Linked DNA regions of Homo sapiens: region 2 is linked to region 1. A link means that fine-mapping ties the variant in region 1 to the expression of a gene that starts in the linked region. Tissue or cell type: whole blood. Region 1 holds a variant in brackets; the other region holds the start of a gene. All regions are shown on one strand. Distances are from middle to middle.

The links. PIP is the estimated chance that this variant, and not a neighbour inherited with it, causes the effect. A credible set is the group of variants that fine-mapping cannot tell apart.
Region 2: FRG1 starts here. The variant in region 1 is the best candidate, but not a certain one, in a credible set for the expression of FRG1 in whole blood (TOPMed, PIP 0.79).

The regions. Positions count from the first base shown.
Region 1 is chr4:189,971,730-189,979,837 of GRCh38, reverse strand. It overlaps the pseudogene MLLT10P2. Among named protein-coding and RNA genes, the nearest start is that of FRG1, 35 kb to the right of the region's middle. RefSeq lists a silencer at 4,442-4,612. The variant T/C (reference allele first, on the strand shown) is at 4,422.
Region 2 is chr4:189,937,012-189,945,119 of GRCh38, reverse strand. FRG1 (FSHD region gene 1) reads right to left here and starts at 4,248. Exons shown (of 9, transcript NM_004477.3): 1 at 4,049-4,248; 2 at 1,848-1,918. The coding sequence starts at 4,110. It overlaps FRG1-DT (FRG1 divergent transcript), which reads left to right and starts at 4,387. Exons shown (of 4, transcript NR_149039.1): 1 at 4,387-5,461; 2 at 7,787-7,923. RefSeq lists an enhancer at 3,443-3,942.

The DNA.
Region 1 (8,108 bases):
CAGGGCAGTCCCAGCAGCCAGGCAGGGCCTCTGCAAGTGAGATGCAGATCCAGCCTGTTGGCCACTTAGCAGCTGCTTGGCTGGCTGCAGATCACCTGACCTCTGCTCACCAGTAAATGGGGGTTGCAGTTAGCACTTACCTTCTGGGGTTTCTGCAGCTTGAAGGGGCAGCACACACCATGTGCTGAGAAAGCGCCGAACTCAGGCAAGCTTTTCCAAGAGCACCACATCAGATTAACATCCAACCTGTACAGAATACCATCAAATCTCCCCACCCCTCATTCCAATGGAAGAAAAGGGAATCTCTGTCCTAGGGGGAGCAAGCACAGGCCTATCTATGCAGTCGGCACATGGCACAGGTGGGGAAAAGGCCCTTGGATACGTGCTGGTTTCACCAACCATCTGTAGGTTGGGTTTGGCCTGGACCCCTGCACCCCAGGAGGCCGGCAGCCCCCCTGCACCCCAGGAGGCCGGCAGCCCCCCTGCACGGTACAGGACTGGGAGGTGGGTGGGAGGGCTGAGCTTTGAGGGAAGCCATTATTTGGCCTCATGGGAAGTGGTGCAGGTGGTTGTTGGTGGCTCAGTTTTGCAGGACCTGGGTGATCACCCAAGGAGTGAAAATTGTCTTTTTATGAGAAATTGCCAAAATTGATGCAAGCTCATCAGTTGAAAAGGTGAGTAATGCTGACAGTTGGCTTCACGTGCCCCTTCCCCACAAGTAACTGGTGTTCAGAGGTGGATTTGGTTCCTTCCCAGCCTTTCCCGTTTGCATGTAGCTGTGTGCATGTACTTTGTGTACACACAAACATGTTCCCTGGAGGGGTTACTTTTATTTTTTTATTTGGGGGGATAACTAGTGAGGCAGCCTGACACTTGCTTATCTTGTCTTTTAAGTGTGGAGTCCTCTATGGAGTGGGCATCAGGTACTTACTAGCTGGCCTCTGCCAGCTGTTTGGCTGCCCCCGTTTCTGCCCTTCACAGACATGCTGGCCACCTGGTGTGACATGCAGTGGCCTTGTTTGCAGCTAGTGTGATGAGACAAGTGGATCAGGTACATTGTAAACTGAAAAAGCACACAACATGCAGAGGGAAAGGATAAATGACCATGAGGGTACTGCTCTGCTGAAGTCCACATCACATGACTGAGATGACATTTTTTCACCTAACATTTGGGCCCTGAGAAAAGGCATTTGTTTTACTTTTTATTTATAACAGAATTAGAAGAAATACTACCAGGCTTTCTTTTCCATTATCCTCAACTCCCACTTAAACCCCTCAAGTTTACCTACCTCAGAGAGAAAGTGGAGCTCGCCTGATTGAGAGCCTGAAATTATTTGAGCCAGGTCACTGTGTAAAGGTCAGACTGCTTCCATCTCCTTGTGCATCACTTGCGCAGCTCAGATATTTCATGGCTCCCTGTATACAGGTAGCTGTGTTACCCTCCTAGCCGCTTTCTTGGTTTGATACATGCCTGGGAGCATGTGGGAGCAGTTAAGGTCTGGGCTCATGGGAGGACAGTTCTGCCCACCCCAGCTCATCTCTCCAGCTCAGCCTGCATACCTGCCTTCCTCCATCTGATTCCAGAGTAGGGGATGGGAGGTCTCACACTGACCTCAAGTTTATGTGACTTTTTCCATCTCTGCTTTCCCAGACAGCCCTTGCTGTGGGACTTGTAAGGAGATTTGTGAAGTCAGTATCTACTTTTCTTGTGTGGGTGTTTATAAATTATTCCCCTGGAGGGGAATAAATGTTAGAGGTACTCCAAACCCCTAACATGTAAACATCTAAGCCTGGCCCTTTTTTGGTGGTAAAATATACACAACATAAAACTTACCATTTTAACCATGTTTAAATGTACAGTTCTGTGGCATCCAGTATATTCAGTGTTGTCCAACCATCTAGTTTATCTAATTTATCCATATCTACAACTTCTTTATCATCCTAAAATCAAACACCATTCCCATGAAGAAGTCACTGAATAGAAGACTGATGTATTTGACTCCATAAAAATTGAAACTTTGTGTGAGAGAAAAATGCCTCTAAGTCAAAAGTCAACAGACTGGGGAAATAGATCTGCCACATACATGACAGACAAAAAGCTAATTTGGGATATATACATACATATGGGTATATGTAAATATCCATTTTAAACACCATTCAAAAAATACCATCGTTTCCCATTGAATAGTGTTGACTCCTGTGTTAAAAATCATGACCATATTTTTTGGTTCTTTATTTCTATCGCATTGGTCTTTGTCTCTGTCTCTATGCTGGTACAAGTTTTGGGTACTGAAGCATTGCAGTAAGTTTGAAACCAGGAGGTGTTAGTCCTCTAACTTTGTTAGTTTTTAAGATTGATTTGGCTACTTGGGATTTTTTGAGATTTCATCTGAATTTTAGAATAGGTTTTTCTATTTTTGCAAATATTGGAATTTTTATAGTGATTTTATTGAATCTGTAGATGACTATAGATAACAATGGCATCTTGACAAGGTTTTGTCTTCCAGTCCATAAACACATGATGTCTTTTCATTTATTTGTCATCTTTAATACGTTCATGCCATGTTTATAGTTTTTGCTGTACAGGTTTTTCATTTTCTTGGTTAAGTGGGTTTCTAAGTATTTTATTCTTTTGATGCTATCATACATGATACTGTTGTCTTGATTTCTTCTTCAGATAGTTTATTGTTATTGTAGAAATACAACTGATTTTTGTGTATTGATTTTGTATCCTGCAGCTTTGCTGAATTTTGTTTATTGTATCTGACAGTTTATTTCACAGAAACCAAAAGATTTTTAATATATAAGGTTATGTCATCTGCAAACAGATAATTTTACTTTTAAAAAAATTGGAATATCTTTTATTCTTTTACTCATGTTTTAACTAACTAGAATCCTCAGTACTATATTAAACAGAAGTAGTAAAAGCAGGCATCCTTGTTTTTGCTCTTAGGGTAAAAGCTTTCAGTCTTTCACCACATTAGCTGTGTTTTTGTTTTTTGTATGACATTATGTTAAAGTGTTTTCTTTCTTTTTATAGTTTATTAAGTACATTTTATCATGAATGTGGGTTAAATTTTGACAAATGCTTTTTCTTCTTTGATTAAAATGTGATCACATGAGGCTTTTTTCCTTCTTTATGTTAATGTGATATTACGCTGATTTTCATGTGTTGGAATATACTTTTATTTCAGGAGTCAATTATACTCATTCATAGTGTATAATCCTTTTAGTGTACTGCTAAGTTTGAGTTGCTGGTATTTTGTTGAGGATTTTTGCATCAGCATTTGTAAGGGATGTTTGTTTGTAGTTTTCTTATGGTGCCTTTGTCTGGCTTGGTGTCAAGGTAATACTGGCCTCATAGAATAAGTTAGAAAACATTACCTCCTCTTCAACGTTTTGAAAAAGTTTGAGAAAAACTGGTGTTAATTCTGCTTTAAACGTTGGGTAGAATTCAACAGTGAAGCCATCTGGTCCAGGCTTTTCTTTGTTGCTGGGTTTTTGATTACTTATGCCATCTTCCTGCTGAATCTCCTTGCTGAATAGGTTTATTCAACTTTTCTGATTCAGTCTTAGTAGGTTTTTTGTTTCTAGGAATTTGTTCATTTTATTTAGGTTATTCAATTTTTTAGTGTATAGTTCCTTATGGTACTCTCCTACATCCTTTTTTTACTCCAAAAATTTGTTAGTAATGTACCCATTTTTCTTCTGAGTTTCGTAATTTGAGTATTCCCTTTTTTTCTTAGTCAATCTAGATAAAATTTTTGTCAGTTTTGATCTTTTCCAGAGAATAAACTTGGTTTTGTTGATTTTTGATATTGCTTTTCTGTTCTCTATTTCACTTATTTCCACTGCTATCTTTATCATTTTTAAAATTTTGCTAGCTTTTAGTTGTCCCTCTTTTTCCCTCTGTTTTTAGTTCCTTAGGAGTAAAGTTGTTGATTCAGTATCTTATGTTTTATAATCATTTATAGCTATAAATTTTTCCCTCATGGTACTGTTTTTGATGTATCTCTTAACTTCTGGTATTTCATCCAGTTTTCTCTCCATCCTTTATTTGATACATGAACAAATTACATGAGTGAAGAACACCACTGTGTCTTCTTAAATAACTTTTCAACTTCAGTAAGTCATGCAAGGATCAAATGTGAGAGAAATAGAGAACCTCAGGATCAACTCAAGTATTTGGAAAAAAGTACTGAAAAATGAGGTGGGGTGGTTTCCAAACTGACCTGCTCAGCATCGAAGGGATTCTTGTTTCTTAAGGAAGCCATGCAGTTTTATCAGCTTAAAAGTGAGTGGTTGGTAAAAATTTTTTTCTTTTAAACTTACTTTTTGAAACTTCTTATTTGTGGACTGTGGTTTGTTAGAATAGTGATTATTTTGTTTTTATGAGATGTTTATTGTATTTTTATCTTTTT[T/C]TTTTAAGGCAGAGTCTTGCTCTGTCACCCAGGCTGGAGTACAGTGGCTCGATCTCAGTTCACTGCAACCTCCACCTCCCAGGTTCAAGCGATTCTCCTGCCTCAGCCTCCCGAGTAGCTGGGATTACAGGCGCCCACCACCACACCCAGCTAATTTTTGTATTTTCAGTAGAGATGAGGTTTCACCCTGTCGGCCAGGCTGGTCTCAAACTCCTGACCTCAAGTGATCCACCCGCCTCAGTCTCCCAAAGTGCTGGGATTACAGGTGTGAGCCACTGTGCCCAGCGTGTTTCTTGTGTTTGATGATGAAAATCTGTTATTGACAGTAAGAGGATGGGGGCTCAGGTTAGCAACAGGGTGTTAGAAAAGCAGCAGTAAAATTTTGGTTCTCAAAACATTTGATGTCTTATTCCTTTTTTTGAACATGGGTTTTGCTAAAAAAAAAAAAGGCCAGCCATTTTGAAACTTGATTTTATTGTCACGTTCTCATTTTGAAATTCATCTTATGGTTTGTATGAATTGGCAGCCGTCTGTGGGAAATTTCAGTTTTGCATATTTTCAGATTATTTTCATTTTTACATCAGATTTTGAACAGATGCTATACAAAAGTATTCATTTATTTATTCAACAAAATTTAGTGCTGGTTATGTTGCAAGCACTTAGTGAACTTCATGCTGTACGTGCCTCACATACTTTTGCGAATGTAATGGCAACATCAAAACCTTTGCCCTTATGCACCTTATAAACCTTTAATTTCAAGGCATATTGATGAGCGGGCATCTGCTATAACGTGCTTTCATGGTCATTTAATTCACCATTATTTGGGTATACCTTATATTGAAGCTGATTACTGAAAATTGGAAACTATTTAAACATATCTGTGTCTTGCCTTTTTCCTTAACATATGTAGATCAAGGAGTCACTGAGGATCAATTTTAGGGATAGTTATAAAAATCTTAACTTTGCGACTATAACTTTGTCCTCAATGTAATAACTGCAAAAAATAATTTACATTTCAAAGGCTTTAATCTTTGTGCTTTTTTGAAAAGGAGCCTTCACCGAGATTCTTTAAAAATTCTTGCTCTTACAGTAGAGCATTTTAAGCTCATGGATATGGTCCTCTAATGGATCTGTACCCCCTCAGTTCTCTGGTTGTCGCCCTCCTGTGGTGAAAATTAAAGCTTATTTTCATTTCACGTCTAGGATGCAGTACGTTCTTATTGGGGAAAAAATGATGTTGCTGAGAAACAAGTGCCTTCAGTATCACTGTGTGTCACTTAATAAATATGACTAATATCTACTTTTACCAATGGCTGCAATTTGATGCTTAAACAGCCATCTTTAAATTATACTTTTTCTTTGGTTAAAGAAAAATAATTATAATAGATATTAATTATTTTTACCTAATTTTCTTATGTGGACTGCCATTCTTAGAACTAAAACTTTCAGATGTTTATATTACAAGTACAATTATTATTTATTTTTATTATTAGTGTCATCTTTTTTTTTCTGTAGCCAAATGTAATCAACTCCCTTCCTTTCACTTCCTTTTTTGAATCAGAATATTACACTTATACAAGCAAGAGCAACAGCTCTATATCCAGATCACTGCAGTGCTTAGAAGATACAACAGCACAATTTACAGATCCAAATTTCCAGGAAGTCTCTGCACACACCTCTAGTACAAAAGATGCTTCAGAGACTAGAGGGTCAGAGGGCAAAGAGAGGAAATATTCAACTCCCAGCTCAGGTCAAAAGGGAAGAAAGCCTGGTGTTAAAAGAAATCCAAGAAGGACTGTGTCTGCAACTCGCCCCTTTCTGTAAAGTATTCATGGTGTTTTAGTTAAAATGTTTGTTCTTATGATGGTCAAATAATATTAATAGTTATGCTTTGTAAAAGAATTTATTCTTATAATTAATGGATCGTTCTAAATTATTATACGTTTAGTTGCTATAGTAAGATGATGTCAAAGATTTGTTGCCTGTTAAATGTTTCTGGGATCTTTGCTTTATTTTCATATTATGATCTGTGCTTCCAAAGTTGAGTGGTAATTTTATTGTTTATACAAATGTAAAATAAAGCTTAAGTTTGGGGAGAAAAATAAAAGCTAGAGTTTTCCTTTCAGCTCTATAGAACAGTCATTCATTTCTATAAATGTTCTTTATATAGATTTCCTAGTTCCACATTTAAAAATAAATATGGGGATCTACACAGGTCTCAGTAAATAATAGTTGTTGATTAATAATGCATTTATTATAAAGCTTGAAGTTTAAAGTAGAATTTTGCTCAGCCTACATATCTTTTATGGTCAGGCTGCTATAATTATGTAATACCCAGTTAAATTTCAATTTCAGATAAACAAAGAATAAGTTTTAGTATAAGCATATCCCAAATATTGCATGGGGTATACTTACACTGAAAAAAGTATTTGTTTATCTGAAATTTAAAATTAACTGGGCATGCTATATTTTCTGTGGCAACCCTGTTTTATAGAGAGCAGAGTAAGTCAGCTAAATTTTAGAATACTTTAACCTGGTGTTCTAGGTCTTTCCTTTTTGTAATTATTATTATTATCTGGAGTCAGGGTCATGCTCCATCACTTAGGCTGGAGTGCAGTGGCACAATCACAGTGCCCTGCAGCCTTGAGCTTCTGGGCTCAAGTGATTCTGGCACCTCTGCCTTTGCCTCCCAAGTAGCTAGTACCACAGGTACGTGGGCCCAGCTAATTTTTTTTTTTTTTTTTTTTTTTCCCCGTAGAGACAGGGTCTCAGGGTGGTCTGGAACTCCTGGGCTCAAGCAATCCTCCCACCTCTGCCTTCACTTCCCAAATAGCTGAGACCACCGGCACATACCACCACCATACCCAGCTTATTTTTTATCAGGTTGGTGCAAGAGGAATTGTGGGTTTTGCCATTGAAAGTAATGGCAAAACCTGCAATTACTTTTTGTATCACCCTAATAATTTTTTGTGGAGACAAGGTCTTGTCCTGTTGTCTAGGCTGGTTTCCAAGTCCTGGACTCGAGTGACCCTCCTGCCTTGGCCTCTCAAAGTGCTGGGATTACAGATGGGAGCCACTGTACCAAGCTACTTTGTATAATTTTTAACATAAATGTAAATGTTTTGAGAACTAGAAATGTTAAAACCCTTGGAGGAAAATGTAAAGTATACAATAGAAAAAAAAATACAAAAAATTATCAATTTTCAGAGGAACAAAAAATATCCAGTTTTTACAATCTTCAGGATTCAATCCCATTATATCAAACATACCAAGAAACATATTCAAAGAAAAAGGCAATCAATCGAGACTGACCTCGAGACGACCGAGATGTTGGAATTAGTATGGATTTTTTAAAGTAGTTATTATAATTCTTACTAAAATCAAAACCCCAAAAACTCTTATAATAAATGGATAGAAAATCACAGCAGAGAAGAAGAAACTACAGTAATAACAAAGCCTCAAGTGGAAATTCTAGAAGTGAAAAATTTTTCAAAATTAAAAAATAATAGTTGTGTTCAGGAGCAGCTTGGAGGTGGTAAAGAGTCAACCTTAAAATACAATTGAAATTATTCAATCTGAAAAATGTGAGCAGTCACGGGTTGAGGTGAGGGAGTTTTCCTTTGGTTAGTGCTTTTAGGTAATCTTGGTTTTTTTTTTTTTTTTATTGATCATTCTTGGGTGTTTCTC
Region 2 (8,108 bases), 35 kb after region 1:
GTCACTATACAAAAATCAATTGTATATCTACATACTGACAGCAAACAACTGGAAAATCAAATTCAAAGGTTCTATTGACAGTAATGTAAAATTATAAAATACTTAAGAATAAATGTTTAAACAGGCATGCAAGATGGCTACATTGAAAATTATGAAATATTGAGGCCCAATATTAAGATGTTGATCTCCCCCAAATGATCTGGACTCAATACAGTTCTCGAGAAAATCCAACAAACTTCACTGCAGAAATTAATAAATTAACAGTTAATAAGTACAAAGTCGGAGGACTCACACTACCTGATCTCAAGACTTCATGAAATTATAGCAATCAAGAGAAATATACCAACAGAAAAACAGACAAACGTATCGATAGAACAGAGTCCAGAAACAGACCAATACATAGAAAGTTAATTGATTTTTTATGAAGATACCAAAGTGGATTAATGGAAAAAGGAAACACCAGTGGTGCTGGCACAACTGGCTATCAAGATGTTTAAAAAAAAAAAGTAAATCTTGAAACCGAACTCACAACATCATGCCAAAATTTAATTTGAGATGAATGACAGATTTAATGTAAAAACTAAAACTATGATGCCTCTAAAAGACAATGTAGAATATTTTCCTGACTTTGGGGTAAGCAAAGATCTCTTAGATCAAAGACATAAGACAGTAACCATAAAAGAAAAAAAAAATAAACTGAGCTTTATAAAAATTAAAAGCTTCTGACCATCCTGGCTAACATGGTGAAACCCTGTTGCTACTAAAAACACAAAAAATTAGCCGGGTGTGGTGGCAGGCACCTGCACTCCCAGCTACTCGGGAGGCTGAGGCAGCAGAATGGCATGAACCCGGGAGGTGGAGCTTGCAGTGAACCGAGATCGCATCACTGCATTCCAGCTTGGGAGACAGAGTGAGAATTTGTCTCAAAAAAAAGCTGCTCATCCAAAAACCACCATTAAGAAACTGAAAAGGTAAAACTCAGACTGGGAGAAAAGACTGATAACACCATCAACTCTTGGCAAGGATGTAACTGGAGCACTAATTCATTCTTGGTAGGAGGGTAAAATGGCACAACCACTTTAGAAAACTTTTGGCATTTTCTTATATAGTTAAACATTCACCTATCCTTTGACACAGCAATTCCACATCTACATATCTACCCTAGATATTTACCCTAATTTTAGAATTGTTGATTTGCCATTTTGAAAGCAATGATTCTTCCAGAACATTAGCTTTATACCATTCCATATTTTATATATTAAGTTACCATAATTTATGAAGATTCAAAATGCAACTTGCCAAGTTTTAAAAGAGAAAAAAATATGTATGGAAAAGAACTAAACGGAAAACAGGCTGGTTAAGTGTGTTTAGGTCAGTTTATTTCTAGTATCATTTACAGGCTACCCTGATGTTGTATTTAAAATTTTCATTCATTTCAGAGTTCACAAAATAATGATTTTTCCTGTGAAGATACTTCCTTTAAGAGACAACCGACTTCTACAATTAAAATGCATACATGTGCAAAGAAAATAACTTGTAAAAGATATTTGGTTGAATAACATTTACATTAGGCCTTTAAAATTATGTATTAGAATCTCTGGCTATTAAGCAGTCTAATGGTGCCTACTAAGTCAGAGAGTTATAATTTTTCTCTCCTGATAATGAAGTAAAGGCATCAGTAGCATCTACTGTGTTAAAGAATAAATGGAATTTATAACTGTAGGTAATATTTAAGCACTTTAAGACAAATATGAATACATCATAAATTTCTAACTAGGAAAACACTTTCAAGGAGATCTCAAGAAACATTAACTTTTTTCAGAATAGAGCACTGAAAACTGACTCACCAACAATATCAAGCTGGGTTTCTTCATCTTCTTCTCTTTTTCTTTTCTTATCTTTGCTCTTTTTCTTCTTACTACAGGACATAATTTATATAGACGAGTTTAGGTATATTGATTTGTACGATAAATATTGTAAGATTGAAACTTGAAAGTCTTTTAAGCTGTTTCATTTATAAATTATTGATTTAGGAAGACTTACATTGATATGCCCTCTTAAATACAGTACTGAGAAGTTGCTTCAGGCTTTGCACATATTACGTTAGAGTTCAAAGCAGATTGTAGAGCCACACTGCCAGATTTTAAATCCTGATTCTTTCACTTCTTAGCTCCGTGATTTTTGGAAAAGGTACTGAATCTCTCTGAGTCAGTTTCCCCACTTAAAAAATTAGGATAGTAACTTAACCTAACTCTTAAGGCTATTGTGAGGATTAAGAGGTAATATGTACCTTCACACATTCCTGGTGGAAATGTAAAATGGTGCAGCATCTACAGGAAACAGTTTGGGGTTCCTCAAAAAGTTAAAGTTACCACATGACCCAGCAATTTTACTCCTAAGTATGTATACCCAAGGGAAATGAAAACATACACCCACAAAAATACTTACATAAGAATATTCACACTAGCATTAGTCACAATAGCCAAAAAGGGGAAACAACCCAAATGTTCATCAGTTGATGAATGGATGAACAAAATGATACATCCATACAATGGAATACTATGCAGCCATAAAAAGGAACAGGCGCTACAACAATGATGAACCTCAATAATGTTATAAGTGAAAGGAGCCAGATACAAAAGGCCACATGTTGCATGATTTCTTAGGAAATATTCAGAATAGGCGATTTCACATAGAGAGCGGATTAGTGGTTGCCAAGGACTAGGAGAGGGGGAGGATGGGATGTGACTGCTTTAATGGGTAGGGGGAGATTTCCTTCTGAGATGATGAAAATGCTGAGCAACTAGACAGTGGTGAACCTCTTGAATATATACTAAAAACCCCTGACTGTACAAAAGGGTGAATTTTATAATTATGAATTATATCTCAATAAAAAAATAAAAAACCAAGAGTGATTTGAAAAAAAGTTAATGTGCAAAGTGCCTACAACAATTTCTTGGCACATTGACAGTGCTATATGAGCATTAATTATGATTATTACGATGATCTTAAGACACCCGTGTCTGCATTTTCATTATAAAGTTTTCAGAAGATAACTCTCCTCTCCTCCCAGGAAATTCACAGAGTAAAAATCTCACATTCATTCAGGATAAACCTGCCATTTATTCTGGCATCTTCATGAGGCCAGACTCCTCGAGAGGGTTCTCAAGGCCAGTGGCTTCAACTCACTCCTTGATACTTTCTATCTCGCCTAAAAATATCAAAACCTCTGTTTATCACGGAGACCAGGAGGAAATACTCGACATTTGTATGTACCTCGGGCAAATCTGCCAGTTAAAAAAGAAGCGGGGATATGAGTGCACAGGTATTTTTTCCTAAAAAGCTAATAAATTACCATTACGACCTCCTCCTCACATTTGGCTCAATTTATTTTCTGCATATATGTTCTCTCATTTAATCCTCACAGTCTTCTAAAAGTATAAAAAACGTCTGAAAGTATAAATGTGTAAACGGAGGTTCAGATATTTGATCTCTTAATGAGTAAATGGAAGTTCAGACATATTAACCAATTTGCCACAAATTACAAAACTAGTAAATGACAAGAGTGCAGGTTCGAGCCCATATCCCTAAAGCCCATATACACCTCAACCACTGTGTGATTCATCCTGGTTTCACTGTACATATTAGATTAGAAAAAATTAATAAGTTTTCTAGAAAGAAAAGAGACAATGGAGAAAATAATAATCCCTAATAAAGGAAATTATCATGAACTACGAGATCAGACTAATGCAGACCCCCCAGGCAGAGGCCTGGAGAGATGCCTCAGGGGACCCAAACTCGTGGGTACGGGGTCACGGGTCACCTGCCCGTCTATCCTGTTTCCAGGGTCGTCCGCGCGGGAGGCTGCCCCTCTCTGCACAGACGCCGGGAACCGCGGCCCGGCCTCCGTCCAGCCCGGACAGGGGCCAGGGCGAAGCCTGGGAGGCCACAAAGCCGGCTCTCCGCGCCACGGCTTCCACCGGAGTTGCGGGGGTGGAGTGCGTCCGAAAAGAACGGAGGAGGCTCCCGCCCAAGCTGCAGGACCCACCTCTTCGTCTTGGTTCCCTTGAGCACGAGCTTGGTAGACTTCACGTAGGAGTACTCGGCCATGGCTCCGGGAAACTTCTGCGCGGAGAGGCTGAGGCCGGTTCTGGACGAGTATGTGAGTCGGGGCAGCACAGGGGCGCGGAGAAACAGAAGCGGACGCGAAATAAACACTCCCTGACAGCCTACGTCTCTGTAGAACCCGCCTCCGTCTTCACCCAAACGCTGAATGGCTCAGAGTTCCACTTCCGGGTTTCTGCCGGGGAGCTACGGCGGCCGCAGAGGGCCAAAAGGCATCCGCGCGCAGCTGCTCCCTGGCGCCCTCTCAAGGAGCCCCTGAGGATTCGCGCCTCCCGGAAGGGAGAAAAGCCCGCCCGAGGCGCGGTGCTGACGGTGGCTGGGCTGCCGGGTGCGCTGTGGAACCGCCTCCTGCTAGAGCAGCGGGCTGGCGACGGTCCTCGCCGGGGCGGGAAGCGGCTCAGGCTGCCCTCGCTGGCCTGCGGCGGCGCGGCTGGAAGCGCGGGCCACTCGTGCGTGGGTCACTCAGGACTGCGCCTCGCGCGACTGTGTGTGCAGGAAACAAGCAGGAAATACCCTAAAAGAGAATGAAGCGCCATGTTGAGGGTCGCGGACGTCGCGAGTGCTGTGGGAATGTGGGCTGAGGTGGAGAGTTATGGTAGCCCGTGTTACAGGCTCAGGGGTCTGAAAGAAGCCTAATCGTGGAGGCGGCATCTGAGGAGGGTCTTGAAGGCTGGGCAGGCATTTGCCCGACAGAGATGGAGGAAGCTAGTCCTGTCTGATGGAGGAAACAGGGCGGAGGCGTGGAGGGAGCCGTGCAGCGCTGGTGTGAGGAGCAGCGAGCAGGCCAGGCCTGTAAAGCAGAGTGAGGGAACCAGGATAGAGAAGGCAAGTCGGGGTCCTGTGGTCGCTGAAGAATTTGAATGAAATCAGTAAACAGGTGAGAGGGATCCATCGCAAGAGCATGGGATGAAAGGAGGAGTAGTCCACGGTGATTCCTCTGCAGCGGTGGGTGTTATTAATCGCGTATGTGACACCAAAACCACCCCACTCAAGCTGTGGCTCTTTCCCTAAAGTAGAAAACCGAGACCAGTTGGGTTCCAAGCATCCACGAAGATCTTATTAAATTCGTGATCCCTGGTGGCACCATGGAGTCAGGATTGGCTCATCTCAAACCTGACTCAGAAACAAAACCGTCACAATGTGCAGAGATGAGCGTCCTTACCGCTATCAACGTATTTTCTGGTGTTTTCACAGTGCTGCGCTTCCTAATCCCCATTCCATGGCAATCCACATGCCATGATGCCCGGAGTCATTAACAAAGGAGACACACAGGGGCTCCTCACGTTGGCTTTCCAGGGTTTTGATGAAAATCTGTTTCCTCGTCTCATACAATGTGGTTAGTAATAGTATCATTTAGGGTTGAAGAATTAAATGGTACGAGTTATATAGGGTGCTTATTATAACCTACATGGAAAATGCCTAGGATATGTTAGCTATGCTCATCACCAACATCGTTATATGATGGTAATAATCAGATAGTCAGGAAGCCTGACACCAAGAAAATGGATACATGCTCTGAAGGAATGAATGTGGAGAGATCAGAAGGTCAAGAACAAAGTCGTACAATATGTCTACAGTAAAGGGATAGAGAAAAGAAAGGCTATAAAAGAAGGAATGAAACAGAGTTAAATTATAGAAATCAAAGCTAAGGAGAATTTCCAGAAAGGGTAGTATCATTTAATATCATAGAAGTTTAGGAGCCCAAGATGGAAAAAAGGCCTCTGGGTAACTGACATTGAGGCAGTCTTTGGGGAAGCTCCATTTCCGATAGAGAAGTAGACTGAAAGTCAGCTTGAAGCAGGGACTAGGTGAAGAAGCTGTTGGCTGGTCGCATGGGGAAATAAATAAGGGATGGCATATGCCGTATTTCTGGATTTCTTTCTTTCTTGCCCAGCCTCTATATATGCACAGAGTTTGGCGAAAACTTACAAAAAATAAAAATGAAACCAATTTCGTTTGTAGACCCAAATACAATGCTTTCTGTTAGAATCAAGATAAATTCATGCCTCTCCCTTCTATTCAAACCGTCAGTTTTGAAATTAAACATCAGCTTTTCTTCTTCATTAAAATCATTTTCAGCTCTTCCCATTGATGGTTTGGGGGAGTTGCATAAGCAGTCAGGTCTTGATGAGTAGAGGAGGAGGGAACAAACACTTTCAGCAAAGGCAGAATTCTGAAATTCTGCTCATATTTTTTTCCAGTAACTTTCCTATGTTTGTGAGGTTATTCAGTCATAAAGATCCTAGTGAAATGTTTTTCAAGCTTTACTAATCATAATCACTGTGGACATTTGTTTAAAATGTGTATTCCCAGGCCTCTCACCTGGTGATTCTGATTCAGGAGATCATGGATGGGACTCAGCATACATGTGTTTGACAAGTATCACAAGTGGTTCTTATGGTCAGGCAAATTTGGGAAACTAACCAGGAATTTATGTTTTTATGACTGGCAGCTAGAAAAGATTCCTAGAGTCTTTGCTTTTTGAAAATAAAATATTTCTTTTTTAAAAGGAAAATTGTATGACTAGATACAGCATTTATACATGTGATAAATGTACTATACTGTGTGCTTTTGTCATATTTACAGTTAAAGATGTGTAAGAACACTCTGAGAAAAATTGTATATTAAATGAAAAGAGGGGTAAGTCAGGGTGGGGGAGAAATGAGAAGGGTGTGCTTATTGTTGCTAAAAGTTAGAAAAGCCAGAATGATAGCATCTAAGGTTGCAAATAGCACACTGTAAGTTGAGGGAGCTTCACAATCATGTCTGAAGCCTTCTTTGATATGCTGAGTTGTAAACAGTGGCTTTGGACAAGATTTGAGGGAGAAACCAACTATGCTTTAAAGTGTTCATTTAAAAGTCTTTAATTAAAGGAAAGTCTTTGCATTTACTTGAGCTAATTTAACTTCAGGACTTTAAGAAATTACTAGCCCTTAACCTCTTAAAAATTGTCTTTCATTTCAAATGAAAGTTTAAGGTGGCCTTTATGTTCGATTGGTATACTTGTGCGAAGACTTAACAGCAAGGTACTGTACAATTCTAAATGTTTACTTCTTAATTTTGCTGGAAGAAATATACTACTCAATTGATTATTTTTAAAGCAAAGTAAAACAATTTATTTTGACAAGTGACACTGTATTTTCCTAGTTTTTTGGTGGCAAAGATTAGTCTTAACATCACTAATCATCAGAGAAATGCAAATCAAAACCAAAACGAGATACCATCCTACACCAGTCAGAATAGCTACTATTCAAAAATTGAAAAACAACAGATCTTGGGAGGCTGTGGAGAAAGGGGAACATTTACACATAATTGGTGCAAATGTAAATTAGTTCAGCCACTGTTCAAAGCGGTTTGGAAATTTCTCAAAGCATTTAAAATAGAATTACCATTCAAGCCAACAATTCCATTACTGGTATATAACCCAAAGAGAATCAGTTATTCTACCAAAAAGACATATGCACTTGCATGTTCATCGCAGCACTATTCACAATAGCAAAGACATGGAGTCAGCCTAGGTGCCCATCGACAGTGGATTGGATCAATAAAATGTGGTACATCTACACAGTATGATTAGGCCATTCTTGCATTGCTATGAAGAAATACCTGAGGCTGGGTAATTTATAAGGAAAAGAGATTTAATTGGCTCACATCTCTGCAGGCTGTACAGGAAGCATGGTGATGGCATCTGCATGGCGCCTGTGGAGGCCCCAGGGAGCTTTTACTCATGATGGAAGGCACAGAGGGAGTAGGCACATCACATGGTCCGAGGAGGAGCAAGAGAAAATGGGAGTGGGGGTAAGTACCACACACCCTTACACAACCAGATCTTGAAAGAATTCACTATCACAAGGACGGCATCAGGCCATGAGAGATCCATCCCCATGACCCTACCAGGCCCCACCTCCAACACTGAGGATTACATTTCATCATGAGATTTATAGGGGCCACCTTCCAAACCATTTCATACACCACGGAATACT